Linked DNA regions of Homo sapiens. The protein of the gene in region 4 purifies or fractionates together with the protein of the main gene of each other region. This does not show direct contact. Each region holds a gene or a part of one and is shown on either strand. Other genes may lie near its edges. The genes, in order: KIF1A, SIPA1L1, CORO1A and TRIM67.

The links.
Region 1: the proteins of TRIM67 (region 4) and KIF1A purify together in Homo sapiens (affinity purification with western blotting; 2 studies listed by BioGRID, with this or other methods). This does not show direct contact.
Region 2: the proteins of TRIM67 (region 4) and SIPA1L1 purify together in Homo sapiens (affinity purification with western blotting; 2 studies listed by BioGRID, with this or other methods). This does not show direct contact.
Region 3: the proteins of TRIM67 (region 4) and CORO1A purify together in Homo sapiens (affinity purification with western blotting; 2 studies listed by BioGRID, with this or other methods). This does not show direct contact.

Annotation. Positions count from the first base shown.
Region 1 is NC_000002.12:240,719,203-240,726,223, forward strand, and holds part of KIF1A (kinesin-like protein KIF1A), read right to left. Parts: intron 6,203-7,021; coding exon 6,069-6,202; intron 4,835-6,068; coding exon 4,773-4,834; intron 4,357-4,772; coding exon 4,211-4,356; intron 3,455-4,210; coding exon 3,254-3,454; intron 2,683-3,253; coding exon 2,605-2,682; intron 1,837-2,604; coding exon 1,712-1,836; intron 725-1,711; coding exon 572-724; intron 1-571.
Region 2 is NC_000014.9:71,582,466-71,589,486, reverse strand, and holds part of SIPA1L1 (signal-induced proliferation-associated 1-like protein 1), read right to left. Parts: intron 3,190-7,021; exon of another isoform or gene 2,559-3,189; intron 1,917-2,558; 5' UTR 1,615-1,916; coding exon 117-1,614; intron 1-116.
Region 3 is NC_000016.10:30,179,267-30,186,606, reverse strand, and holds the start of CORO1A (coronin-1A), read right to left. Parts: upstream 3,006-7,340; 5' UTR 2,882-3,005; exon of another isoform or gene 2,836-2,881; intron 2,459-2,835; exon of another isoform or gene 2,188-2,458; intron 2,104-2,187; exon of another isoform or gene 1,819-2,103; intron 1,399-1,818; 5' UTR 1,398-1,398; coding exon 1,200-1,397; intron 10-1,199; coding exon 1-9. UniProt on the Homo sapiens protein: May be a crucial component of the cytoskeleton of highly motile cells, functioning both in the invagination of large pieces of plasma membrane, as well as in forming protrusions of the plasma membrane involved in cell locomotion.
Region 4 is NC_000001.11:231,157,304-231,165,057, reverse strand, and holds the start of TRIM67 (tripartite motif-containing protein 67), read right to left. Parts: upstream 3,001-7,754; 5' UTR 2,089-3,000; coding exon 1,045-2,088; intron 1-1,044.

The DNA.
Region 1 (7,021 bases), on a different chromosome or scaffold from region 4:
AGGCAGAGAGAGCTGCTCGCTGGGGCCCTCGGTGGGGGCAGCGACTGACTCGGGCACTCACCATCTACCACCCAGAGCTGGGACGCAGCAGTGCCAACCACCTCCCCAGCCAGAAAGTGGGTCGAGGCATCGAAGGGCACCTGGCAGAACCCCAACCCAGCAGGCCGGAGACCAGACCACCAAGCCAGCTCTGGGCCTCAGTTTCCCCACCATAAAATGGAAAAACTTAAAGAAATAAGCTAAAGTTGCTGAAGGCTGTCACACTGTACCCAGTGACCACGAGTTCCCCACCTGGGCCTTGGCTCTGACCCCACCCACTCCCCTGTGCTCTGTGCTGGTTCCCAGCCTAGGCATGTGGGTCACAGGGCCCTGCCTGACCTCCCAGCATGGAGCTGTCCCTCCATGTGGGTCAGGGGCAGCCTGCCTGAACCTCCAGTATGGGCATCAGGCAACCTGTCTGTCTCCCCAAGTATGAGGGTCCCTGTGCCCCCAGTATGGGGAGCAGGGTGGCCTGCCTGTCCCCTGTCAGCACAGAGCTGGTGGCGGTGCTTTCCAGGGAGGCCCCACACACCTGACTCGGATCTCCTGGATGTCAGGGACCAGCAGGCGCTGGGGCTCCTTGTCTGTCTCTGTTGCCCGGGCAGGGGAAGGGAGCTTCTTGGAGTCGGCCTCTGGCAGCAGCTCGGGCTCTGGGCTGGCTGGCCGGGAGCAGGGCTGCGGGGTCCTGGGAAGCAGAGGGAAGTGCTGCCCACTGCAGGCCTCCCTGGGCCTGGGGCCGTCTTCCCCCAGGCTTCACCCTCCTCAGAGCACCTCAGAAGGTGCAGTAGGGCACCTTCGCAGGGTCTCTCCAGCTGTGCCCACAGTGGGAGCTCCCGGGGCCCGTCCACCAGGATAGCCAAGCTTGTGCCCGATTCCAGGAAGTGCTGGGCTTGGTGGGCAGGGTCCCCCAGGAACCTCGGGGCCCAGCCAGGGAGCCTGTGCCCCACTCCACGCCCTTCTCCCAGTGGCTCTCCTGCCCCCACCTCCACCCTGTGAAAGCAAGTCCAGCATCTCTTCATCTCCACAACTAGACTGAAGGTGACACGAGGTTCCAAGGAGCCACTGGAGCAGAGGGTGCCGATGGCCTCCCGCATGGGCCCCCCACATGGGCCAGGCCCCACGCGACTCGACCTGGTGGTCAAGGAGGCCTGCAGAAGACAAGGCCAGCTGATGCCACCGTCTTTCTTATTTAAATGAAAATCTGGAACCCTTAAGGCGCTTAAAACAAGAGTGAAAAGCATCTGCCTGCTTATGAATTGTACATAAGGGGTTCACACGAGGTCTCTTCCAAATGCGGACCTGCAGGGGCCAGGTGTCCCCTCCACAATACTGACTCTAACGGCTCTCATGCCCTCTTTCGTAACCTTTTCTTTTTCCATTATTTTATAAGCACTGTCTCAGGAAAGGGGAGCTTTAGCTTATTTTCCACCCATTTCTGGTCTTCTTCAGGGAAGAGAACACACACACACTAGGATGGAGCTGGCGGGGCACAGGCACCCTCTGAGAGGGCTGCGGACTCCACTCCTCCAGGCCCTTCCCTCAGCCTGTGGCCACCCCAAGGCACTCGGCCATTGGGGCCCCCTGTTCTGTGCTCTCTGTGCCCGAGTCACGGCCATGGTCATGGGTCAGCCGTGGTGCCAGAAGCCACTCCGGGAGCCTGGAGCTCACTCACCTCAGGTCAGTGGCACCGTACCGCCCTTCAACCAGAGAGGGGCAAGTGGAGGAGGGGGTGAGAGTGGCCACCCCTAGAGGGGACATCGACGGGTCCCGGAGCAGGGTGACAGACATCTCGGAGAGCTGCGGAGGAGAGGCCTTTTTCAGGGGACACAGGGAAGGGGGGTCTCCGGCCTCTGTGGGAGCTGCTCCCTGTGCCTGCGCTTACCCCACACCTGCTGCTTAGGGCACCCCACCCCTCCTACCAGCAGCCTTGGCTCAAAGTTGGCCAGCTCAAGACCCCCGGCCCCCTCCAGCCCCTGTGGCCCCTGGCCGGCCCCTCCCATCACTTCAGGCTCTGGCCTGACCCAGGCAGCCACCCTGCCAATGCCTCGAGGAGTGGGCTGGGTAAGCTCTGCCCTGCCGCCTCCTGCCCATGCCAGCGTGAGGTGGCGCTGGGTGATGCCATGGGGACAAGGAAGGCCATGGGCCAGGGCTGGAGCTCCACGCATAATGCAGCACAGCAGCAGTTTCCCAGGCTACAGGGGTGGGGTCGGTCCCAGGAGGAGGAGGGACAGCCAAGTGGGAGCTTGACTGACTGGGCCAGAGGCCACAGGGTGATGGCCAGACAGGGTGGGGGCCAGGAAGACAGCAGAAGCCTGCAAGTGCATGGGTGCATCCAAGGCCACAGGACCCACCCGGCCCCTCACTCACATCCCCACCTCCCATGGACCCCAGGCCGACCCAGGGAAACCAGCCACTTAGGTATGAGGTGTCCCTCTGCACTGAGACGTGTTCCTAGGAAACTCTTAACTGCCTTTTCCCACTTGGAATGGGAGTTTTCCTCAGGGACCACTGCCTATGGGAGCCCGAGCCCTGCGGGGCAGCCTGGTGCAGCCCCTCTGCACCCACCTTGCTCTCGCTGGCACTGACGCAGACGTGGCTGTGTGTGTACTCTCTGTTGAATGTGTGCGTGAGCAGGCGCAAGCACTGTGGACAGAGCACACGCGTGGTCAGGGGCCAGGCCTCCCGGGACCCTGCTCAGACAGCCTTGCAGGCTCTTCTACCCACCCCTCCCCAGACACAGGTGGGTTCCGACGCCAGAGCACAGTGGGTCAAGGTGGGCAGCACCTCCACCCCGCCCAGGTCATCGGGTGAGCCCAGGAAGTCTCCCAGGGTCAGGCACCGGCTGAGGGCCTGGTGTGAGGGCCAGAGGCTGTGCTGCCTCCAGTGCAGGAGGCGCAGGAAGCCTTCCCAGAGGCCCGTTCAGCCGCCAAAAGAGCCACTTGTGGGTGGAAGTGGTGAGCTCCCCATCAGCACAGGTATTCAAGAGAGTGATTCATCGCTTGGGAAGGGAGGCTGCAAAAGGCACCCAACTTTCAGTGCAGGTGGGGTGCAGTCAGTGGGCAAGGGGACCCTAGGGACCCCTCAAGCTCCTAGCTCCTGGTGGTGCTAACCAGAGCAGCCATGGGCAAGGCCGGGTTGCTGGAGTTGCCCAGAAATGACTCAGGGCCCTTGAGGGCCTGGGGCTACGGCTGTACTGCCCACCAGCTGGACCCACCTTGACGGCCAGCTCCCGCTGCCTCTCGTTGGGAGCCTCCAGGGGTGATGGGCGGCCCTCAGCCGAGAGCGGGGAGGAGGCGCTGGAGGAGCCATGGGACTCAGAGTCCTCGCTGAAGGCCGGGGACAGTGCCTCCGGGACAGGCCGCTGGGCGGTCTCCAGCTTCTCCCGCAGGAGCAGGTAGTGCCTAGTCTTCTCCACCTTCAGACAGGACACAAGGCCTTACCTGCTGCACCTCAGGGGTGACCTCCGGAGTTGTGCTCAGCCTCAGCAGCAGCATGACCCTCTGGGCAGACCCCGGAGAGCCCACCCTCCCCTGGGCTAAGACTGAAGACTGACAGCCCTCAGCTGTGAAATGAGGGAACAGACCCTGGCGCCCCGGGGCTGACAGCCCTCAGCCCCCACCCCAGCCCTGCCACCTTCATGGGCAGCAAGCAAGCTGCTCCTCTCAGACACATCCATCTCACGCGCCAGGTTCTGGGGCAGGGCTGTGCTGCCTTGCAGTGCTGGAGGCCTCAGGAGAGGGCCGAGGGGTGGGCAGAGCCCTGGCCTCACGCATCTCACACGTCACGCGTCACGTGTCACACACACACTCGGCCCGAGGCAGTGCCTAGATGCTGCATGTTGGTTTCCCTGATCAAAGCCGCAGAGGGCAGCCCAGCCCCGCGACTCTCCTTCCGGGTCCCTTTCTGGCCTCTGTCTATATGCCCGATAGTCTTCCTCGGCTAATTCCAGAGCATGCCTCTGTGCTACACTGGCCATGTTTCTGTCATACACCACGCAGCCCCGCAGTGCACACTGGAGCATCACATGCTCCTCCTGCAGGTGGCTGTGACTCCCAAGCAGCTGTGCTGCCCCCCAGTAGGCACCAGGCCCTGGGCCCTCTCCAGCTTTTGCTCTGCACACAAAGCCACATGGACACCACCGTGCGGGCCTCATCCTCTGAGGCTGCCTCACCTCCTGCAGGAGGCTCAGCTTCTCCAGCTCCCACTGGTGGTCCAGAATGAGACTGTCACTCCGGGGCCTCCAGCCTGCCAGGTTCTCCTCGCCCCGGACATAGGCCACAGATGTGTCCAGGACTCGTCGGCGCCGGCGCTGCATCCCTGCATGGGGCACGTGGACATTCCACCCCTACCTGATGGGTGGCTGCTCCTCCCACCCATCCTAGAGGTCCGCCCATCTGTGAAGCTGTCTCCCCTCTGGAGTGGAGATGGGCTTCCCCTGGTCCTTGGTCCACCCTGGGGCCCAAAGAGCCATGTAGGCCTCTTCCATAGGAAGTTATCCAGCCCGGCGTCCCATGGCCATCTCGGCTGTGCCCTGGGAACCCAAGGAAGCCAGCAGGCCTGACTCTCCTCCCTCGCTCTCCTCCCATCTCAGAACAACTCCAGAAGCCACAAGGTGAGTGCTTGGGTTCTGTGAGGGATCCCCCTGCAAATGGCAGCTTCGCTGTGGTCACCCCAAGTGGGCAGAGGTTGAGCAGGCCAGGAACCCACCCAGTGAGAGCAGGGCAGATACCTACCTGGGCTGCCCGCGTCAGCCACGTGGCACAGGCTGAGCTCGTACACACCAGTCACACGGTTACTGTGGGGAGTAGAAGGAGTGACATGCAGTCACCAGGCCCCGCAACAGGGACACACAGCCAGCCTGGCTGCTGACTTGCCCCACTATCAAACGCACAGTCAGCCTGGCTGGGGTGATGGGGTGTTGAGGTCCCTGAGCTACAGCCCCTGTTCAGAGTCCTCATCCCAGACTCCCTCCGGCCCCCAGAGAAAAGATGCATTGGCTGGTCTTGCTCAGGTGCCCATGGGGCTGTGACGTGAGGCCAGGCCCCCACAGCAGCCTCCACTTTGTCCCAGCCCAAGTGGGGTACAGGCAACATGAGCACAGCATCTGGCATCTCCAGTCCCTCCACGGCGTCGAGAGCCCCTCAGGCCCCATACCCCACAGAGCAGCCCCACTGTGCCCCGGACAGATTCTGAGAGCACCTCGGCCACCCTCCCACAGACAGGTCGGTGGCATCCCACAATTACTGAGTGACCTCCAGAATGACCACAGCCAGCCCTCAAGGACACTGGATCCTGACCCCCAAGCTCTTTCCTCCCAGCTGTGCCCAGTGTGAACCTGGACACCAGGTCCATGTGGCAGACCACAGGGAGACCCACTGAAGGTGGCCACGGGTGCCCGGTAGCCTCGGCAGCCCTGCTGTCAGGGCCCTGACATTCCGGCTCATTCTCCCCCACCCCCAAGAATCAGGAGCGTGTTCAGCACGCAAGCACGGCTGGTCCTGGTGTTCGGTGTGTGGCTCCCCAAGGTGCTGACAGCCTCCAAGAAGAGCCACCCAGCAGGTCCTGTGGGAAGCTGTGTCCAGAGCCCCCTTCCAGCCACCGCCCACTTATCCAGCTCCTCCTTCAGTGCCTTGTGGGCAGTCAGTCCCATGGCACAGGTTCCGTGGTCCTCAGGGAAGAAGGTCACCGGCGGCGGGGGGGGGGGGGGGGGAACGGTGTGGCCCCAGGATCACCCACAGGAGGCCCCAGGTGGGCACCCTGGGCCTGCCCCTCCTCCCATCCGCTGCAGGCTGGCCCTCAAGTCCCTCATAGTGGTGTCAGTGTCCCCTGCAGGAACCATGGCCTCCACAGAGTCTTCATCTAGGGTGAGCAGGAGGGGACTGAGCGCAGGGAGCCAGCCAGGAGTGTGGCTGGGCCTCGCACAGGGTGAGCTGCCGGGTGGCCCAAGGACCGCTGCCAGGCAGAGCCCTGCCTGGCCCGCACCGAGACCAGGGTGGGAGTCCATGTGGTCCTCACCCCTGGGAGCTTACCTCTCTGAGGCCCGAAGGCTCCCACTGCCAAAGAGGTTGCGGATGGAGCGCGAGGCTGGCAGCTTGGCATCACGGGAATAGAAGACCATGCAGAAGTCCTTGGTGACAACAGCCGGCTGGGTGCAGTTCTCCATCTGAGATAGGCGGGAGCAGGACTCAGGCACAAGGACACCCCGAGTGCCCAGGTGCCCTTCCAGCCTTCTCCTGGGGGCACAATGCCCAGCACCGACAGGCAGCCCCAGGGCCTTCCCAGGGCCTCAGGTGTGGCCTGGACGCAGGCAGGAGAAAGTCTCTGCTCCTGCCCTCGAGAAAACCCCACTGGGGACAGGTAGCCACAGCTCTGTCCACCCCTGGGCTGCCTGAGGGACTGGTCTCCATGTGTGGGGACCCCGAGGGTCCCAGACATAGGCTCACTGCTCGGGCCTCAGCTGCCTCACCATAAAATTGGGGTGACCCCTCCCCGACCCTGGAATGTCTGTGAGGATCAAACCAGGTCTTGTTTGAATGTGCACATTTTAACCCAAACACCACAGAAAATGACTTCCTGGTGGATGACACGCTAACTGCTGAACAGCTGGCCCCTTTGTCTTCCTGAAGTGGGGGCAGCTGCTGTGCATGGCTGAAGAGTCCCAAGCACTCGCTGGGAAGAGCTCTGCCAGCGCCTCCTCACGGCAACCTCACCACCATCTGGTGAGATGGTCACACCATCCCCATGTGAAGCTGGAATAATTCGGCTGTAACTAAGGAGAGGGGATGTGCTTGCAGATGCCCCTGCCCACTGCTCCCCACCCTCCCTCTCCCTCACTACTATGACCAGCAAGAAACGCCCACACTTCCAGTCACCTCTTGCACTTGGAAGGGAGGCCACAGCCCAGGTCTGGCCACGGCCTATGTACTGCAGACTCTGGGGGTGCTGTGGGGATGGAACACTTCTGTTTTTGTGCTGCCCGGAA
Region 2 (7,021 bases), on a different chromosome or scaffold from region 4:
GAAAGATAAGACATGCAAATCTTATGTCACATTGTTAATAAATATCTTAATATACAGTACTTTTCTTCAGAAAGTACTGCAAAAGAAAATGTAAGAAATAAAGGATCTCTACTTACCCTTCTGGTAGAAAAATTTTCTATAATAGTATGCACCCAGATCTACGTGTTCCACGATGTATCTTTTCACTCTATCTAGGTGCAACACCAAGTTCTCCTTGGGCACTTCAAGTACTGCCACTCCTGCATTTGTGCAATGGGAACTAAGGGTAGACTCAAAGGAGGCACTTTCACATCCACTAAAGGAGCCAGAATTTGATTTTGAAAGGCTGATTTTCCTCTCCCCTTCTCCACCTATCTCATTCCGAAAATATGGACAGCTCATTACAAGCTCATTGCTTTTATCATCTCCCTGGTCCATGCTGAGGCTTCCTTTGGAATTCAGGTCCTCTGTGCTGCCCATTGGGGAGCTAAAACTGGCTGAATGAGACAGAGGTCCAGAGACCAAGGATGCCACGGCAGCTGCGGAAGCTCCAGTGGTGGTGTTTCTCCTCTTAATAACATTGTGCCTGTTCATAATTGCCTCATTCAAATCAAATAATATACTCTGGACATCATAGTGGGCAAAGCACTTTGGACATGTCCAGGGCCTGACAGAGTCTTCTGATCGGTTATCTTCAAGATCTGATGACTTCCCAAGTTCTTCACCTTTGGCATTGCGCAATTTACGAAAAATAGATGAGTCTCCAGTTTCAGATTTTGAACGTCGCTTGAGTGGTTTTTCCCTTTCCTTAAAAAGCCTGAGGTTCTCTCTCTGTGAGATAGGCCCGTCTATTACATCCAAAGAGAAACCAGAACCCTTGCCACCACCAGTAATGAGAAAGTCACTGAGCTTGGTTGGAGTTGGACCTCGATCAGATTTGTCATCTTTGTAGCCCTTTAACAAATCAAAAAAGCTTTCTCCAGATGTTCCCTGTTTATCAATTGAAGATGTGCTACCATATTCCCTGTGCAGTGATGGTCCAGTCTTGTATGTAGGTGAGATACATTCATCAAAGCTATCCACATCAAGTTCACTTATGGTGATATCACTGTTGCTTCGCTGGCGTATTCTGCGAAGAGCTTTTCTGGGGGAGCTGGGGTAGGCTTCAGGCATGAGAAATCTGGAGTCCATGTTCTCCGACGGTCTTGTCTTGTTTTTCAGCGTGTTCTGTATGCTTTTCAGCATGGCTGAGTCATTGGAATTGAGGCTAACAGAACTTCCCTGACTCACAGGACTGCTTTTGGAGGACAGGCTATCAAGGCAACTTGAGGTTTCTATTTCCTGGCTTGAACGGCTAGATTCTTTTATGTTTTCCTTTCTTGGGGGCCAATCTGCAATCCTTGCCCTTACCCCCATTTTTGGGACTCCGGGGGTTGAGGTTATATGGTGAGAACCTTCACTTCGGGGGGGTCCTACAGGAGCCATAACTGATGATCCTAAGCTGCCATTTTGGGACCGGAAGCGCCGCATGTAGAAATCATCAGTGTGGACTTTGGGGGTGCCGTCTGTGCCAACAACAGAGGCCCTGTCAGTGGCAAGAGGCCTTTCTGTCTGTGACCGTTTCAAGCTGGTCATGATGTAAAAGCAAGTAGACTTAAATCCCTGCAGCAAGGACCATCATATCTGTGTTTTAAATGTGCACTTCCCTTTTGGAGAATGGCTTCCAGAAAATACAACAGTTGCATGAGATCTTAATCTTTTTCATTTAAAAGGTTAAATGATGCTTTATTTGTAAAGCACTGAAAAATTGGAACTTCTAAACGTTATAATCCACAACAGTTTCTTTGCTTCACTTTAACAGAGGGCTTTCTTTCAGAAAAAACTGAATGGAACTTGTACTACTGAGATTCTGTGGTTGCCATAATCCCATGCTTTCTCTAAAAGAGAAAAGGATAATTTGAATTAGCAGATAAATACATCTAAAAACAAACATGCAATTGTCAAAACCAGACACATGAAGATAAAAGACTCAATAATGGATTAGGATTCACAGTTCCACAATCCGTATTTTTAGTAAAGCAGGTTTGAAAGAAAGGAAGAAAGTAAAAACCATTTGATAAAATCCATAATTTATATTCTAAAAAAAAAAACTATTAAGACTTCATCTTAATTGAACTGTTTCATAAAATGGGGGGCAGGGGGAGGGGTACATCTTGTTCTGGATATCATGGCTCCTACCCAAAGTACAGACTTTTGCTCCAATGACCTCTAAAAATGTAGAACATCATGAGCTACTGTGATGACCAGAAGTTTGAGATGTAACCAAGTGAATAAGATAATTAGAGCAACAGAGTTTTTTGACAAAAGTAAAAACTGAAAAATGACTTTACTGAATATGCTGCAACAATCACTTTTTAACTCCTCTATTCCAAAATCAATACATGTTTTTTGTTTCCTTACAAAGGCTTAACATAGTTGGCAAAAACAAATACAGCAGGAAAAAATAAATAAAAAGAGTTTTCCCAGAGCCATTATATCCATTAGCACTCTTTTGTATTTTCCTCTACTTTATTACTTACCGAGACGAGGATATTGCAGAATGAATCCAGCATTCACCACCACCTCTTCCCAAGCTCTCCTTAGTTTCTTGTACTCTTAAAAGCTAGAAGTATCTCACTAATGAACAAAATGCCTGCATTTCCTCATGCAGTACAACCTACTCCACCCCATCAGTGCTAATTTATGAAGACGGCAGAAACAAAACACAGCTCTGGGTGGCCCTCTCCATATCCCCAACAGATTACAGAGAACTGTTAGCATCCTTCCAGGTGACGGGCATGGAAACAAACTTCCTCATGAGCACGTCAGGCAGAAGGCAGGAGACACAGATTCTGAGTACAAAATTCTGCATGGTTGCGTACATTCTGAAAAGAAAGGCAGAGGCTCCTTTTCCAAGACTCCACAAATTACACAAGAGGTGGCCTTTAAATTCTTGCCAAATACATGTTTGGAAAGATGCTGCTGAACCAGCACTGAGCTGACAGGGCGGCATTGTCTACAAATCACGGCTCTGACACCGGAGGACGACCTGCACTTGCTGCACTCTCCACTCAATGGTAACAAGCACCTACTTCCACGATAATTAAGCATCTCCCTAGTCGGCTTCCTGCCTCCAAGGCAGGCGCTTTCATTTCTCTTGCAGCACACAGCATCACTTTAGAAGACTCGCTGCTATTTAAAGGCTGGAACATGTAGGGGTGTTTCAAAAAAAAAAAAAAAAAATGCATGCTGCCTGCAGAATGCAGGGTGAGGCGAGCTCTGGCTGGGCTCGTGCTGGCTGAGTCTGTGGAGCCATTCAGATAAATGCCATTTGTTTTCACTAGCACTCCTCTTCACCATCTTTTGTAAAAGGGATAATAGTTTTGCACTGCTACCTAATTAAACATGGCTTTTGAGCTTTCTAGATACTTCTACTGTCAGACTGCTATTATTCCCTTTACATTCCAGAACTTTACATGTTCCTCTTTCAATGATAACCCTTCAAGTGACAAAACATGCTAACTGTTGCTTCCGAGGATATCAAAGGACAGCATATATGGCCATAGCAAAGGTTCAAGAAGTGATTCTCATAAAATGGAAGGAAAATTGAACAACTGAACCAAAATGCAAACACCTGTTCAACATCTCCCCAAAAGCTGATTATTTCAATGAATACTCTACATAGCATAAATAATACTTCTAAAGTAGATTTTATAAAAATTAGATGCTTTCAACATTTCTCACAACCTCACAGAAATCCAAATAAATCATCTTTCATTCCCCAAACATTCATTCTCTAAAAGGACAACACACCAATCCCACCATGATAAAAACTCTTGCCACATTTCATGTGCCTTAGAAAATACTTTACTGCACAGCTGTCTTTCCCAGGATATGTGAAGTTATTTCCATTAGAGGAGGAAACTAAAAGCTGGCAGTAAAATACAAGAAATAAAACTGACTTGGAAATGCTCAGTCTCCACCATCAGTATTTCTCTTCCAAACCATCTCATATACTTCCAATATTTTTAATGAGTTTATAAAATCTTATTTTTAAATATAAAAATTTCTTACCAATTCAAAAGAAATTTCAAGACTCCCATTACATTATATAACAACGACTCAATGTTTTCTTTTCATTTCAAAATATAAATAAGCACATGGGAGAGAGAGAAGCCACGTTTTAATGGCTTGTAAAAACTGATGAGGTTCGAGATGGGCAATTATGTTAAATAACAGATTTTTTTTCAGTCATAAGGACCTTCCTTTTCTATGTTTTTTTTTTCTCCCTCTCATTTTCCATCTCCCTCCCTCCCTCCCTCCCTTTTCTCATTCTTATTTATAGCATCAAACCCCTTTGGGGTACAATATAAACTTTGGGCACTGACTAGCATATATGGAAATATACATGCTTTGCACTTATTAAACTACCAGTCAAAAATAATGCTGTCCATCGATGTGTATCATATGATGACAGATCAATAATACCTTCACATCTATTCCTTAGGGTTGACTGAAACAGCAAACCTATGTTGACAATGATCAGCAACTCTCTTAAATATCAGCAAACCTGCCTAAGTACCAATATGGTAAAAAGCAATAGAATTAAACAGAAGAGCAATACGAATTCACAGCATGTCACCTCCATCTGTTGAAAGAGCAGGCTATATAAAAATTTTCCTTATTACATGTTTAATTTTACAGCTCTAGATACTATCTAAGTCTATGGTAGATCCAGGTAGCTAGAATACTAATTCCATCTAGAGGGCCCACAGTTTAGTTCAATGAGTTCAATTCAACTAGTTGAAAGTCTTTTCATCACTCAAGATCTCTCACAACCTAACCCACCATTCTTCCAGAAGAAATGCTTCCTCCTCTCATCCAAATCACCCCCTGTGTTTCTGTAGTGTCTTCAGAGCATGGACCATACATCCACCAGTCCCTCCTTCAAGGAAAGCTCCAGGTGTAGCAGGGAGACACAGACAAGTAAGAAGATGACGGGGGATGCATGGGTCATGCCTCCTTCCTATACACTTTCCATTTTGATTGTAAGCTCTTTAATAACAGAGCTTACAATCTCCTGCTGGGACTAATTGTACCACAGTAGGTCAGCCATTTAGAATATCAAGTCCCTGAGAATGCTGAAAGCAGAACCTCTTATGGGATCTCTTGATTGCCAAAAATCCCTTGTCATTCTGGCTCTGTGAAGCATCTGTACTCCTGAACCCATCCTCCATCCTGAACCTCTCTTTTCTGGACCTCTGTGATAACCATGTGCTTCTTCATTTTCTCTTGCCTCTTTTTGCCCACTACTCAGTCTTTAGTTGGGGTCCATTGAAAAGGTGGTGTCTATGGTTTATCTCTCTTGACATTTTTCATATTTCTGGAAAGGGGTATAAAAGGTATTTCTATCAGGATGCATGTGAGCACTGAGTGTATTAGGATGAGACAGAAGCATGGGTCCACTGGAGTAATAATATCACTGTGGAAAGCAGAGTGTTGATTGGGCTGGCTCACATTTGTCTGTGCAGCTGAACAAAGGCAGAATAATTAAGTTACTGGCTGGAAATCTGCATGGCAACCAGTACTCTGTCTGTTGATACTGTAGGTGCCTGCAGCTTTAAATATCATCTCTATGCTGTTACCTCCAAATCTCTGGTCATGATCTTCTCCACTAAACTTCAGATAAAATAGAGGTAGGTGCTCATTTGACATCTTCTTTATTTACCTATTTTACAATGAAATAACCAACAAGCAGAATAATGAAAAAAATTTTTTTTCAAGAAATGATTAAGTGGTAAGGAAGGGAGCACATTCTATTCCTAATTCAAGGAATAGAATGAAAGAAACAACATCGTGCCAAGGGCATAAAGAGCAGTTTAAAGGTTACAAGAAGAAGATGTGGGAAGGGGGTGGGGTTGGGGGAACACTACAGTTCCTGTTGTGAAAGAATTACAGTGCAATATGGTAGGGTCACCAGAAAGATGTAGCGTTCCTCATAAAATACTTCCACATTCCAAAATGAGATCTTCTCAGATTCTTTAACTGGTACAGCCTAAAATACAACGCCAGCTCTCAATGTTTCAGGGCAGTAGAAGGAACTGTGCTGATGAATAACTATTCAAATGCCCCAATAATTCAGAGATATACACTTCAGAAGTATTTATGAAAATTTCCAGGCCCAGCACAGTGCCTTGTGCCTGTAATCCCAGCACTTTAGAAGGCCAAGGCAGGCAGATGGCTTGAGCCCAAGAATTTGAGACCAGCCTAGGTAACATGGTAATACCCAGGCTCTTAAACAAACAACAAAAAAATAGAAATAGTTTTTGAACTTGTAAACACAGACTTAGAATGCCTGTAAATATTCTTACTTCAGAATGTAATAAAACACTATTTAAAAACAGAAATATAACTTCACAGTACTTGAATATTAGATGAGCTAAGATAATCAAATAAGGCAAACTATTTTCTTTACATCCCTTCTTGGCTTTCCTGAATTCCACTCACATTACATAAAAGTTGCATCTCAGACAGAAGGGATGGCTCACTCTTTCAAGTTAGCCTGAAACACATCTTAGTGCAATGTCATGGATAATTTAAGATTTATGAATCAGCGTAAAACTTTTTAGAATGGAATTTCTACCTCCTTTCATTTCTGTATTCTCCCTTCAACAAAAAGCAGGAAGAGTTGAGAAAAACAGTTGATAAATCTAGTTCCTGCTCTCCTAATGTTCACTCTCTGAAAGAGACAACACTGATGGAAACAAAGTCGAGTCAAAAAAACTTTTGGTAAAATTAACAAAGTGAATAGAAAAGTTATAGATACAAAACATGTAACATGATAAAGCTGTATTTGAATTTAGAGATAAGAAAGCAACTTAAAATGTGCCTGTTTGGACACAGGAAGGATCAAAAAGGAAAATCACATTTCCCTCCCACTCACCCTCGTAGCTAAAAAAGTTCAGTGAAGAAAGTTACGCTTCTAAGGTTTTGTTAAGCTTGA
Region 3 (7,340 bases), on a different chromosome or scaffold from region 4:
ACGTCCAGTCTAAAGGCACAGCAGGGCCTTGGAGGTGCTTTTGCCTCCCAAACCCAATCCAACCTCCCCACACCTCCTTCAGAGAGGCCCAGAGAGGAAAGCTGTGGTGTCCCTGGGAGCTGGACCAGGGCCTGGGGTGGGGACGGGGGCGGGTTGTTCTTCTCTTGTTCCAGTCCCAAAATGGCCTGGGCAAACCCCAGGAGGGCTGGCCACGCATGGCAGAGGTTGGGGGCCGTGCAAGACCCTGGCAGAGTTCCCGCCGGTCTCTGTCTCAGTCTGTCTCTGCCCTTAGGGTTGGCACCCCCACCCCAGCTTCCCCGAGTGAGGCTTCCATGGGCACAACTGGCCCTGGAGCCAGGACAGGTGTATGGGGGCTGGGGGGGTGGAGGCAGCTCCCCAGAGAGCGAGTGTGAGTGGTGGGGCTGCAGGGGTGGGTCCTCCCAAAAGGAGAGGGGCCAGGGAGCCTGTCCCAACTGGCCCCAGGCAGGAGCAGAGGTTTGGAAATGGCTTCTTCCGGGGACAGCTGCTTCAGCAGGGCTTCCTGTGTGACAGCCATGTGGGGCGCGGGCCCAGCTCTCACCCCGACAACCACTTCCTCTTCTCTTTGCTTCCATCAGCCCTTTTAAGGTAACAACTTGGGGCCCATCTCCCCTTCCTGTCTTACCCCCCAAAGAGCACAGGAGTGTGCTGGGGGTGCGGGGCAGCAGCCAGCCAGCGGAGGGGGCAGCAGGCTCCAGGGGAGGGCAGGGCTGCGGGTGGGGGAGAGCACCTCTTGCATCATCCCTGCCTGCGAGCTGGGGGACAGAGTTGCTAGGTCCTCAGACAGGCCCAGAGCCAGAGTCCCTCCCAACCCTGAGAACGCTGCCAGGGCCCCCAGACCCCATCCCAACCCCCTCTGTGTTTCCATGGGGAGAAAGCCCCAGGCTGAGGCTCAGGAGGGCTGATCATGGGTCTGCAGGACTGTCTGTAGTCCTGGTCACTGGTGTGACCCATCTTGTGTTGGCTCCTTCTGAGCGTCAGTTTCCACACAGCCACAGCACAGAGGAGCTGGAGGAAGTGTAAGGCTCATGGGGCCCAGCTCAGTTTTCCAGATGGCAACACAGGCCCTGGAAGGCCTGGTGACCGTCACCTAATCAGGACCTGCACAGAGCCATGGGTCCGGTGGAGGAGCTGCTCCCCCCAGGGCCCCAGGGGCTCACCTTGCCCAGGGGCAGCACCAGGAAGGCCCCTCCCCCGCTGGCCTCACAGATCAGGGCCACAAACTTAGGGTTGACAGCACAGAAGCCACTGTCCCAGGTGGTCTGTGAGACGCGCACATCTTCATAGCACTGGTCGGCCTTGGCCGGCTGTCCAAACACGTGGCGGAACTTGCTGGAGCGGACCACCTGCCGGCTCATTCTGGGGGCACACAGCATAAGAGCATTTCTCCCTTCAGGTCAACTCTGATCTTCCAGTGGTCCCCACCTCCCCCAGGACACCCCTCAGTCTGGCTTTTAAGGTCCCAGCATCATCTCCAGGGGCTCCCTATTCTTCCCTCTGTGGCTGATGCCTGCTTGCCTTCCCCAGCCTCTCCTTCCCTCTAACCTGCAAGCCCCCTTCTCCCTGGCCCCAGGCCACTCTGAGCCACCCTCTCAATCTGTACCCTCAGCCTCTGCAACAGAGCCTGGCGTGGTGTTGCCCCACTGCATGTTTGTTGACTGACTGGCTGATGGATGCAGAGCCCGTCCTTCCTAATGGTTCAGACTCAGGCGTCATCAGCCCAGATGGCTCCGAGGGTGGGTTCTCTCTTAGTTACCGTGTCCAGAGCCCACCTCCCTCACACCCACACAGCGCTTCCTAAAGGCAGGGACAGGAGCTGGCCTCCCTCGCCTGCTGGCATGGGGCTGGACACAGGAGGAAGTGGCGTGGGGGCTGCCTGAGGGGAGTGAGGCGGCAGGATAGCTTCCCCAGCAGGTCTCTGGCTCAGGTCCAGGTATCTCCTCCTCCCCATACCTCTGCCTCTCGCCTCCGCTCAGAAAAGCAGGTGCCCTTAAGAGCCATCTCCACCCCCATGTAAACTGCACACAGGAAGGGAGAGGCCACTCCGACTGCTCTGAGGTCCAGGTAGGATGGTTTCCCCCAGTGTCTGGGTGGGGAGCAAGGAACTCCAGGGGCGACCTTGTGCCACCGCATCACCTTCCTGCTCAGGGAAGGGGCCTGTGCTGCCGCTTGGAGGGTGCCATGCCCAGAGCCTCTGCCCCTAGCCTCAGCCTCGCCTACTCACTGGGGGCTCCAGCACCCCCGGCCACCCCAGGACTCCCGAAGAGGCTGCTAGGTCGGCCTGCCCAAAGAGCGGTGAGGAGCGTATGTGAAGAGCCCCAGTCTTGAGGAGCAGCCTGTATCTGGAGAGAGGGGAGCCCCGGACCAGAGGTGGGGGACAGGAAGCCATCGCCCCACCCTGCCTCCTCCCCCACCACAGGTACCAGGCCCGGAAACCACGGAAAGGGGAACTTGGTCTTTTCTTGTTTTGCTCTCAACCCCTTCCTGTCTCCAAGCCCAGGGCAGCTGCCCCGCTCACCCCACCCTGCCCTCGTCCCCACCCTCCCCGAGACTCAATTCCGTGGGGAGTCGGGCCCTCGACACTGTGCTGACCCCCGGCCACCCACCTCCATCTTGGCCGCGGTGGTCCCTAGCCCTCGCCTCCGCAGAGCGCTCTGGGGCCCCGGCGGCCCCCACTCCAAGCAGCGTCCCCCCACGGGCTGCTGCGCCCGCTACCTGGCCCCGGCGCTGGCTGGGTCGCGGTGACAGCCGCGCGCCCCCGCAGCCCGCGGCTCCCACGCGCGCGCCGCCCCACAGGTGGCCCTCGCCCCGGCCCACCCGCGCCTCCCAGGCCCAGCCTCACCTGCTGCCGAGAGAGGACAGTGATCCCCCAAAAGCCGGAGGTGGAGGAGGAGGAGGAAGAGGAGGAAGGAGCTGGAGGAGCCGGGGACTCGCCCGCTGAAGATGCTCTTGTCAAGACAATGAATGAGAAGCAGCCGTGCGCCCGCCTCCGGGGTGGCCGCGCCCCTTGGGGCGGAGCTCTTCCAGGCCCGCCCTGCGCTCCCGGGCTCCCGCTGCGGCCGCCTCTCTCCCCGGCCCCTGCCCGTGCACCACGTTGGTCCCCAACCATAGCGCAGGCTGCCATCCCGGCTCCGGGAAGCGAATCTAAACTTCTTTTTAAAATGTCAAAACGCAAGAGCACCCCATTGCTTCTTTCCTCCCTGCGTCCGCCCCCAGCCTCCTCGCCAGCCTTTCCCTGGCAGGCACGAAAGCGCCCCAGGCCCGCCCGCCAGGCCTCGGTGCCCGCCCCGGCCCGGCTGCGCCGCCCCTTCCTCCCGGCCCCGCAGACGCGAGCGCAGGGGGCGCGGGGGGCGCGGGGGGCGCGAGGGGCGCGGGGGGCGCGGGCGAGGAGGAGCCCCGAGCGCGCTCCTGGACCCCCGGGACCTGGCTCTTGCCTGGCTCTGAGATCTAAGCATGGGTGGCCCCGGGAGTCGCTTCTCCTCCCTGGATCTCCTGGCTTCATCGGGAACACCCCTGCCCTCCTGCTGAAATAATCCGGCATCACGGGCACCTACTTCGTGCCAGGGGCTACAGGGTCGAGCAAGGCAGGCAAGCCAGGCAGGTTTCCGCCCCTGAAGAGCCCAGCCTGGGGGAAGGAGGAGGAGCCCACGGCCGCTCCAAGCCCTGGCTTTGGCGAAGGCTCGAGGGCAAGGAGGAATAGTTCCCACCCTTGGATTCAGAGAGGCTTCTGGAGGCAGCAACAGCGGGCAGGAAAGGCCTGCTCTAGAGTCAGACTATGTCATGAGTGCGACCGCAGCCTGTCACCTGCTGAGTGAGGTGTGGCCGCTACTTAGCCTTTCTCAGCCTCGGTTTCTCCCTCTGTAACAGTCATACCTGCCACGTAAGAGGTATGGGGATGATTACCTAAAATAACCCAAGGAAGTCAGTAAGGACCTCATCTAGAAAGTGGCGGGTGCTTAATAAACGTTAGCTCTCAGCCATGCGTAGTGACTCACGCCTGTAATCCCAGCACTTTGGGAGGCCAAGGCTGGCGGATCACCTGAGGTCAGGAGTTCGAGACCAGCCTGGCCAACATGGTAAAACCGCATCTCTACTAAAAATACAAAAATTAGCGTGGTGTAGTGATGCACCCCTGTAATCCCAGCTACTGAGGAGGCTAAGGCATGAGAATAGCTTGAACCCTGGAGGCAGAGGCTGCAGTGAGCCAAGATTGAGCCACTGTTATCACCCAGTCTTCTCTGGGTGAAAGAGCAAGACCGTCTCATTTTAAAAAAAGTTAGCTCTCATCATTCTTGTTTAAAAAGTATCTGGGCTGGGCCTGAAAGGATTAGGAAGAGCCAACAGGCAAGGCTAGAGGGGTGACCTGTAGGCTGAGGGACAGCCCTGTCGTGTGGAGAAGTTCAAGGAACAGCAAGGGACGGGTTCAAGTCCCACCTCTGCCACTGACTGGCTGTGCGATCTTGGCCAAGAGGGCTAATCTCTCTGAACCTCATTTTGTCATTGGTAAATGGGGAATTAATAAGATTTGAACTGCCCACCTCACAAAGTTATGAGGCTCTGGCCGGGCGCAGTGCCTCACGCCTGTAATCCCAGCACTTTGGGAGGCCAAGGCGGGCAGATCACGAGGTCAGGAGATGGAGACCATCCTGGCTAACATGGTGAAACCCCCTCTCTACTAAAAATACAAAAAATTAGCCAGGCATGGTGGCAGGCGCCTGTAGTCCCAGCTACTTGGGAGGCTGAGGCAGGAGAATGGTGTGAACCCAGGAGGCGGAGGTTGCAGTGAGCCGAGATCGTGGCACTACACTCCAGCCTGGGTGACAGAGCGAGACTCCATCTCAAAAAAAAAAAAAAAAAAAAATTACCCGGGCATGGTGGTGCATGCTTGTAATCCCAACTACTCTGGAGGCTGAGGCAGGAGAATTGCTTGAACCTGGGAGGCGGAGGTTGCAGTGAGCTGAGATGGCACTATTGCACTCCAGCCTGGGCAACAAGAGTGAAACTCCGTCTCAAAAAAAAAAAAATTAGCTGGGCATGGTGGTGTGCGCCTGTAGTCCCAGCTACTCGGGAGGCTGAGGCAGAAGAATCGCCTGAACCCAGGAGGCAGAGGTTGCAGTGAGCCAAGACTGTGCCATTGCACTCCAGCCTGGGCAACAGAGTAAGACTCCATCTCAACAACAACAAAAAAGTTACTAGGCTCAAATGAGACAATAAATCTGTAAATCTTTTATAGATTATTCAATTGTAAAAACCTTAGGGCTGTACTGTACTCAAAGGCCTGCGACTGGACGGGACTAGACCGAGATAAGGTGGGTACTCTGATGTGCCGTCTCCCACAGAAGTGACAGGAATAATAACTGGCTTTTATTGAGTGCCTACTATGTGCTGGGCACTGTTCTAGACACTATACTATGTTCATGTAATCCTCATAGCACCCCTGGGTAGCAAATACTATCTCCATTTTACAGATGCAGAAACTGAAGCACACACTGCCTTCAGCTCTGGAGGGCCTCATGTCCACCCACAGGACGAGGGCATTGGTGAAGGACCTGAAAACTAGGCTCCTGAAGGTGGCGAGCCTGACGGCCCTGGAGAGGGCAAGGTGCAGGCAGACAGTGCTGCTTTCAGAGGCCAAGTGGGCTGCAGCAGGGGAAGGGGTGGGCAGCCTTGGGGCTGCCACAAAGGTCAGGGGCAAGGCTGGTGGGTGGAGGTTCTGGGAAGCAGATGTCCATGCAGCATAAGAATTAGTTACAGCAGTGAGTGGGGAAGGCCCTGGCAAGGCTCTCCATGTTTGAGAGGGGGACAACCTTTTCAAAGGGTGTCCTTATAAGGGATGTCAGAGGGCATTTGCCCAGGAGCGGCGAGAATCACTTGAGCCTAGGAGTTTGAGACCAGTGTGGGCAGCATAGCAAGACCCCATCTCTTAAAAAAAAAAAAAATGAAATTAGCCAGCTGTGGTGGCATGTGCCTGTGTTCTCAGCTGCTTAGGAGGCTGAAGTGGGAGGTTCGCTTGAGCCCAGGAGTTCCAGGCTAACAGTGAGCTATGATTGCACCACTGCACTCCAGCCTGGGTGACAGAGGGAGACCCAGTTTCAATTAAAAGAAAAAAAAGGGGGACCTTTGCCTCTCTTGTTCCTGCTGGTTTAGCTCTTACCATTGCCTCTCTCTTTTTTTTTTTTTTTTTTTTTTTGAGACAGGGTCTCCCTCTGGCTGGGGTGCAATGGCACGATCACAGCTCACTGCAGCCTCAACCTCCCACGCTCAAGCGATCCTCCCATCCATCCTCAGAGCCTCCCGAGTACCTGGGACCAGAGGCACATGCCCAACACACCTAGCTAATTTTTTAAATTGTTGGTAGAGACGGGATCTCACTATGTGGCCTAGGTGGGTCTCGACCTCCTGGGCTCAAGCAATCCTCCTGCCTCAGCCTCCCAAAGTGGTGCAATTACAGGCATGAGCCACCGTGCCTGGTCCCGTCGCCTCTTTATTGGATTTTCTTTTGGGGAACCAACCTCTCCTCACAGGCACTCCATGAGGTTCAGGAGGGGACCTGGCGTATTCACATGGCCTGTGCTTCCCAACCAAAGCAACCTGTTTTCATTGGCTCAGGGATGGGCACTTGATTCATCTTGTGCCCAAGACTCACCTTGGAGCTGCTGTGAAAAAGATGCCCTCTCTCCACTGGGAGTTAGGAAGCTGATAGGATGTAAGCCCAGCACTGCTGGTGATATCTTGTTGGTATGCAGGAAAAGCTGGTCAGAGCAAGGTGCAGTGGCTCACGCCTGTAATCCCAGCACTTTGGGAGGCCGAGGCAGGCAGATCACCTGAGGCCAGGAGTTTGAGACCAGCCTGGCCAACATGGCAAAACCTGTCTCCACTAAAAATATAAAAAGTAGCCAGGCATGGTGGTGTGCACCTGTAGTCTCAGTTGCTTGGGAAGCTGAGGCAGGAGAATAGTTTGAACTGAGGAGGTGGGAGTTTTGGTAACCCGAGATCACGCCAGCCTGGACGACAGAGCAAGACTCTGTCTCAAAAAAAAAAAAACAAAAAACAAAAACAAAAAAAACAGCAAAAAGCTGGCTAGGATGGGTCTACACAGAGGCCTGAAGAGGCCAGATATGAAGAGACATATTCTTGAGATCATTTGAGTGTCTGGATCAAGCTGTGCCTGAAACCCTTAACTTTCCTGTTGTATAAGGCAATGCACTTCTTTTTCACGTAAGCCAAGAAGTATGAGTTGGATTCCTGGCACTTGCAGCTGAAAAAGTTCTGATTACACCTACCCTGGAGGGAGACAGGAC
Region 4 (7,754 bases):
AGAACTACTGCTCTAGAACTAGGGATTTGACTGCATATTTATCTTTTTTTCATATGTATTATGCAAATTCTCCTCTTAAAGGTGGATTCCTAAAGTGTTTCATGTTTGTTTTTTCTAATTTGTTATTCTAAAATGTTAAATTATAATAACAACGTATGCTCATTATAGCAGATAATACTATAGAGTAACTATATATGAACAACAAATCTATATAGGAATGGTTAGTCTCTTAGTCTCTTCCTCTCATCTGTGCTCACCTTTTTGCTTATTTCCAGTTGGATAGCCTTGGCCAATTACTTTATTTTCCTCCTCAATTCAAATATATATTTCTGGCTGGGCTGTGTGGAGACCTCTTGCCTCTGCGGTGACTGTTTACTGGTAAGACTACAAGGAATAATTGGTGTCTGAAGTTCCAGAGGCGGTTAGGGGTCCTTCCCACAAGATTCTAACTCTGCCAGGCCTAGTTCATTGACCTCTGGGGAAGTGAGTCCAATTGCTCATCTTTGGCATTTGGATGGGAAATTTAGGTGAATGTTAGAAAAACCAACTCTAGTCTTGACTTGGGGTCTGATCAAGGACCTAACCAGATTTTGATGGCTCCTCTCTTTCTCGCAGTATCAGATACAAGGACACATTGCCAGCCATAAGTTGCTGAGGGTGGCAGAGGGGAAAAGGAGATCCTGCATGCCTTAACTCAAAAGGGACCATCAAGGTAACTTATTAGTCAGACGTTGGGAGTAAAAGAGCCCTGTGTCTGCGTTTTGGGTGCCCTGTGCCTACATAAATCCTAAAACCTCGGGTGGGTGGGGACCTAATAAGTCATCTTTCCATACCCTTCCCATCTCCAGCATCCAGTCCAAAGTACCGGGAGTCCCTTACCTGTTTGTCAAATGACTATCTGATGGAATGAATGGCTAATGAGTGAGGTAATTCCTGCCTGACCCTCTGACCGACTTTCTGTCAGCTCTCCAAGGGAGAGGCCAAAAGCCTTTCTCCTCGTACCCTCTTCCCTGGCACCTGCACTCCCGCGTCCCGCGGGCTCACCTTGTGCTGCTTCCACATGGCCCCCAGCGGCTTCACCTCGTGCTTGGCGTGCCGGCCCTCCTCCAGGCACAGATAACACACCGGGGTTCGACAGCTCACGCAGTACATGCTGTAGTTCTCCATTTCATGCTCGGGACACGTGGGGAACTTGCGGGCCGTGCTGCCCCCAGTCGCCCCCGCCCCCGCGCCTCCCGGGCTCTTGCAGCCGCCGCCTCCGCTGGGGGCGCCCTGGGCGGTGCCAGTGGGCCCGGAGGCTGCCTCGGCGGGCGGCGGCGGCGGCGGCGGCGGCTGCACCAGGCGATGCTTGGCGAAGGGTCCCCGGGATGGATGGCACTTGAGCTGGCAGGCAGAGCAGTAGAGGACGTCGCACTGCTCGCAGAGCGTGGCTGCTGGCTCTGGCGGGGTGCGGTCGCACAGCTGGCAGATGGCCACCGCCGCGGCTGCAGACGTCCCCGGCACGGCCCCGCGGCCCTGCTGGTACCGCTGCACGATGGCCTCGAGCAGCCGGTTGCGCTGGAAGCCGCGCAGGCCGCGGTGGTCCAGGGATGCGCTGCGGTGGCACTGCGGGCACGTGATGGAGCTCGAAGACGAGGACAGCGAGGAGCAGGCGGCACCCCGAGCCGCCGCAGCCGAGGAGCCGGGTGGTGCGGGCACCATGGGCAGCACGCGAACCCCGTTGGGGGACTTGAGGCTCGGGGTGTAGGACCCGTAGCCGCTGTCTGTCTCGCTGTACAAGCTGAGCTTGTCCGCGTGGTCTCCGCCACCTCCCGCACCGCCGCCGAGGCCGCCAGCTGCACTCCCGCCTGCACCGCCGCAGGCCGGGCCAGCCGCAGCGTCGTGCTCCAGAGAGGCAGCGGCGGCGGCGCCCGCCTGCAGCCCCGATCCCCGGGAAAGCAGGAGCGGCTGGGGCAGGTGCTGCTCACCGTCCGGGGTCTGCACCGCGATGGTGCGAGCGCAAGGCAGGCAGACATTGTGGGAACAGGGCAGGATGATAGGCTCCCGAAACAGAGAGCCGCACACGGGACACTTCAGCTCTTCCTCCATCGCGGCGCCGGCTGCCAGCGCTGCTCTGCGCTGGGGATGAATGGCCGGAGCTCGGGAGACTGGCGGAGGAGGACCAGCGCGGTGCGCCCCGGTGAGACGACGGGCGGGGGCATCACACGGGCATGCCCACTTCACAGCCGAGGGGCACGCCCCTCTCTCTGTCCTGTAGCCACCGCCCTAAGATGATTGAGGGGCGAGAGAAGGGAGGGGGTCCTCACCTCCTGCCCGAGGGTCCCGCACCAGCGGCTTCAACCTGCGGCCAGATTCCGGAGCCGGTCGGCTGCCCTCGCGGTGGCCTGCGAGGAGCTTTAGGTGATGAATCAGCACCAGCGCCGCCGCCGGCTGCAGCGCGCGCCTCCTCTCCACCCCAGGACCAGCGGCCGGGCTGCTGTGCGCTCGCTGCTTCAGCCCCTGGCTCCGGTGGGCGGCTACCCCGAGGCCCCCCTTCTGCCCCGGCCCAACTCCTTATCGGGGTGATAGCGAGGTGAGACAGGCAGGTGCGAAGGCCGCTCAGCCGTGGGGCTGGGATCAGCACCACGAGGCGGCGGACAGCGCCCGGGAGCCGAAGGTGGGGCTCCAGCTGCCTGCTCGCCGACCCCTGGGCCGCCACCCGCCGGGTCGCTGGGGCCGCGGCCACCTCGGCGGGACCCGACCGGCCCGGAGACAGCCGCTCACCCTACTCCTGGGCGGCTGTGGACGCCGGCTGACTGCGCCCTGGGGCTTTCTCCCTGCGGCCGGGATTGACCCGCTTCCCTGGTTCCCAGCTGCTGCTCCTGCGGCGCCTCTGACCTTGGGCCGCGCGACGCTGCAGCCGGCGGGCGGAGGGCGAGCGTCCGGCTGGCTCGGGAATCCCCTCCCCGCCTCCCTCCCGCCGCTGCCGCTGCCTCCCCGCGCGGCGCGCCGAGGAGTTGTAATTTCCAGAGCAGAGAGTAATGGGGAGGAGGGGGGAGGAGGCTTCAGCTCAGCGAATAAGGGCTCGCCTCTTGCTGCTAGGGAATCAAGGGGCAATTTTAAGGGTTTTGCAGGGAGGATCATTGTTAATAACAATCCATTATTTGGATGGAGATTGTATCTTGAATCAGTACAACGACCTGCCCCGCCCCGCCCCTGCCATCGTCTCCCTGGGCCACTCCAGTTCCACACCCCACCCCCAACCCACCGCCATAGAAGGGTGAAAACGGGATCCTAAAAAGCCAGTCGTTTAGAAATGGATAGGCAACATGGCCTGACAGTCGCTTCCTAAAACTACGATAAAGCAAAAAAATCCAAGTCCCAAAATGTCGGGCAGCCTGAAGTCCAAGGGTGAGGTTTTATTTATGAATTGAACCACAAGCCATTTTGTCTCTTCCTTTCAACCAAGGGTGCTCATCCGCGCTCCAGGTCAACTGTGTGCACGGACTGAGAGAGGACACGCGGTGCCGCTCACAAAATGGGGTTTCCTGAGAAAGGCGAGAGCGCGCCCGGGTAGACCCCTGGGAACCCAGCGCCCCCAGACCCAGCCCTACCCCGCTGCGGATGTGGCGGTGTGCGGCGGACGGGAAGGCGGCAAGCGGAGACGTTCCTTTTATGAATGGGAAAATCTCCACATTCTCCAACGCCAGCCACGAGCTGCGGGAACAGCCTCCCACCCGCGGCCCCGGCTGTTTGGTCTGCTCGGCTGTTCTTCCCCGCTGCTGCCGAGGGAAGGCTGGGTGGGGGAGGCAGAGGTGGGTGGGGACGAGCAGAAGAAAGTGCTGGCAGCGCAGCCGGCTCTGCCTACAGAAGTTTCACGCTGGCATGAAACAGATACAAATTAGGAAATCGTTTATTTAACAACGATATGAATATTGAAGTCATGCCTCCCTCCGTCCCAGGTTCTCCCGTGCTCCAAACAAAGACTAAAGACCGGAGTCGTAGCGCCAGGCGCGGGCCCAGGCTTCTGCTAGTCCCCGGGTGAGGAGGCGCAGGCTGGCGGGGTCAGGCAGGGGGAAGCTGCAGCCTGCGCCCAGGGCTTGGGGCTCTGTGCCTAGGGGACAGGAACCCCTGCAGGGGGACCCTTGGGGAGGCGCTTGGCGACGCGCTCCTGGCCGCAGCACGAAGGCCCAGAGCCTTGGAAGTCAGGACGCCCCGGGACCACTGGCCCCACTCAGCAGCTCGCTTAGGCTTTCCCTCGCTCGGATCCTGAAATGCCAAATGAATATTGTCATAATACTCATGTCTGAGAACTAAACGAGCTAGTTGCAAATACAGACGGCGTTTCCTACTTTCTGTTTTTGTTGTGGGGGCGGCGGTTGGAGTCTCTCTGGGTCGCCCAGGCTGGAGTGCAGTGGCGTGATCATAGCTCACTACAGCCTCGAACTCCTGGACTCAAGCAATCCTCCTACCTCAGCCTCCCAAGTAGCTGGGACTACAGGCCTGTGCCACCACGCCAGGCTCTGTTTTAAAATCCTATGAACCTTTAGTCCGGCTTTGCAGCTTGCTTCCAGTTTGTGCCAAAGTTGAAGAGTAGGCCAAGCTAAGGCCAGATAGAGCATCGCACAGCATTAAGAGACCTGACTCTACTTCCCCTCAGCTAGGGGACTTGGAACAATTATTTAACCAGGCATCAGTAGCCACAGATGGGAGATGGTAACAACCTTGTCCTCATCTGCCTTGTGTAGATAAAGCCACAATGAGCTGGATCCTGCCTGCAACTCTCAGATAAGCCTTCCAGAAATGTGCTATGGAATCTTCAGGGTCATGTCAGAAACGCAGTGTATGGGTAGGTCTGTAATTGAATGCACTTAAAGATGCATTTCTGTGACCCTAGCAAGTGCCATCATTTACGCCGGCTCAGCCCAGCCTCCTGGTGACCACAAGGGAAGTCATAACCTCTTATGGTTCTACTGTGAACAGGTCTGCCCCAAACCAGCAGCCATATGGCTGAAGTCCAGTCTCCTTTGTCATTTTCGGACCAAAACAAACTGCTTGGGGGTAGGGGTGGCCTCCTGGAGGGGTGTGTAACTCCTTTCCTGTACAGAAGGACTTACAGTTCAAGCACTCCTCCACTCAGACTGAGTGTAGTTTTGTTTTCCACGGGGAGGAGGTGATCTAGTACATCAGAATTCTACACCTATGCATTTCTCATGCACTCTTGTCACCTAAATAACAAAGAGACAGGCTCTCTAAAAGAAGAGAGGTTTATTTGGGAAAAAAGTACCGCAATGGAAAGATGCTTGCCATAGTAAACTCTGTGTGTATTCAGGGAGGTAACAGAAGACAGAGGTTTTTAAGGGAAAAAAATGAGGAAGATTGAATAATTGTTTTGAAATAATTACCCTTGGCTACAAATATCAATAACAGGGGTGATGCCAGCTCAAGGCTGGACAGGTAGTTGCTGGGCAGATGTCCTGATAGAAGTATTTTTTGGTGTAGGGTTATGATGGCCTCTCTGCAAGATTGTAGGTTTTGGAGTCTTTTGTAGTCATTTTTGTTACGAGGTATTTATGCACGAAAACTCTCCCTTCATGGCTCTGTCAGGGCTTTTTTTCTTTTTTTCTTTCTTTCTTTTTTTTTTTTTTTAACATTAGTGACTCCATTTGGATTCTGACAGCTTTCACTCTCAATCCCCACCACCTCAATTCTACAACATAAATCAGCTTATCCGTGCACTGTACTTTTGCTAAAACATTGTGCATTTGGGGGATTAGCATCCTACCACTCCTTTGTCTGAACTGAAGTTACAAAGCTGGCTTCAATGCTTCACTGTATATAATCATAATTGCTAACAATCGTCAACATTATTTATAAAAAGTCCTCTTTCTGTCTCAACTGTGCCATGAACCATATGCATATAGAGAAGTCATTTTAGTTCTCTGAACCTCTGTTTCTCCCTATTATAAACTTTGGGGATAAAATTCACTGAAATTTAAATTTCCTTCTGGGGCCGGGTGCGATGGCTCAAGCCTGTAATCCCAGCACTTTGGGAGGTCGAGGCGGCTGGATCACAAGGTCAGGAGTTCGAGACCAGCCTGACCAATATGGTGAAACCCTGTCTGTACTAAAAATACAGAAATTTGGCCAGGTGCAGTGGCTCACGCCTGTAATCCTAGCACTTTGAGAGGCCGAGGTGGGCAGATCAAGAGGTCAAGAGATCAAGACCATCCTGGCTAACACAGTGAAACCCCATCTCTACTAAAAATACAAAAAATTAGCCAGGTGTGGTGGCGGGCACCTGTAGTCCCAGCTACTCGGGAGGCTGAGACAGAAGAATGGTGTGAACCTAGGAGGTGGAGCTTGCAGTGAGCCAAGATCGCGCCACTGCACTCCACCCTGGGCGACAGAGGGAGACTCCGCCTCAAAAAACAAAACAAAACAAAACAAACAAACGAACAAAACACACAAAAATTATCCAGACATGGTGGCAGGTGCCTGTAGTCCCAGCTACTCAGGAGGCTGCGGCAGGAGAATTGCTCGAACCTGGGAGGTGGAGGTTGCAGTGAGGCAAGATGTTGCCACTGCACTCCAGCCTGGGCAACAGAGCAACACTCTGTCTCAGAAAAAAAAAAAATTCCTTCTGGTTCTACAGTCTCTGTGTATTAGCTGTTGTTGAGAATGACATATCCCTTGGCTGGATGTCGTGGCTCATGCCTGTAATCCAAGCACTCTGGAAGGCCGAGGCGGGTGGATCACTTGAGGTCAGGAGTTCAAGACCAGCTTGGCCAGCATGGCGAAACCCTGTCTCTACTAAAAATAGAAAAATTAGACAGGCATGGTGGCACAAGCTCCCAGCTACTTGGGAGGCGAAGGCACGAGAATTGCTTAACCCCAGGGGGCAGAGGTTGCAGTGAGCCAAGATTGTGCTACTGCACTCCAGCCTGGGTGACAGAGTGAGACCCTGTCTAAACAAAAAAAACAAAAAACGAATAACATAGTCCCCCCTTTAAAAAATGACACTCACAAAAAAATTTGATCCCCAAATTGAATGACATATCTATTTTTTTTCAAGTCCCTAATATATTATTAAAGGCTGGGCTGTGGGGTGGGTGAGGCAAGTAATAATATTTGCATTGTAACACTTAACAGTGTGGAATGAGAACCTTTTTTAATTTTCAGAACATCTCTGGGAATTAGGCATCACCACATTTCCTCAATTTTAATATGTATAAATGTTTACATTTTAATGTTGCTGAAATTAAAAAGTATACTACAATTGATACATACTTCTGCTCTCCCTACTGTTGCTTTGAAAATTTCCTATTAAATTGATGGTGCATCTTATCATCACTTGGCCTCATGGAAAGTACATTAGTAATTAAAACTCCACAATCTACTGCTATCAAGGCAGAGAAAAACAGACTCTGCCATGAGTTACTTTGGATAATGTACTGCAGGATGGTTTTTACACTTAAGTGTCCCAGAAACACTCAAGAGGCTGAGTAATGTAACCTCTCCTCAAAAAAAAAAAAAGCACAAATCAGTTAAATAATTTACTCCAGCTAACACAGCAAGTTAGAAGTAAATCATCTGCATTCCTTTCAGAATGCTTCGAATTTCAAGCATGAAGCAGAATGGAATTGAAGGCTTTATCAGCTAAAATCAGATGCTGTAATCTCAAGTGTAAGAATCTCTAAAACAAATTTTAAATGAAAGCTTATGATATTTTTTCTTTTAGTTTTTTGGGTTTTTTTTTTTAACAGTTTAGGGTG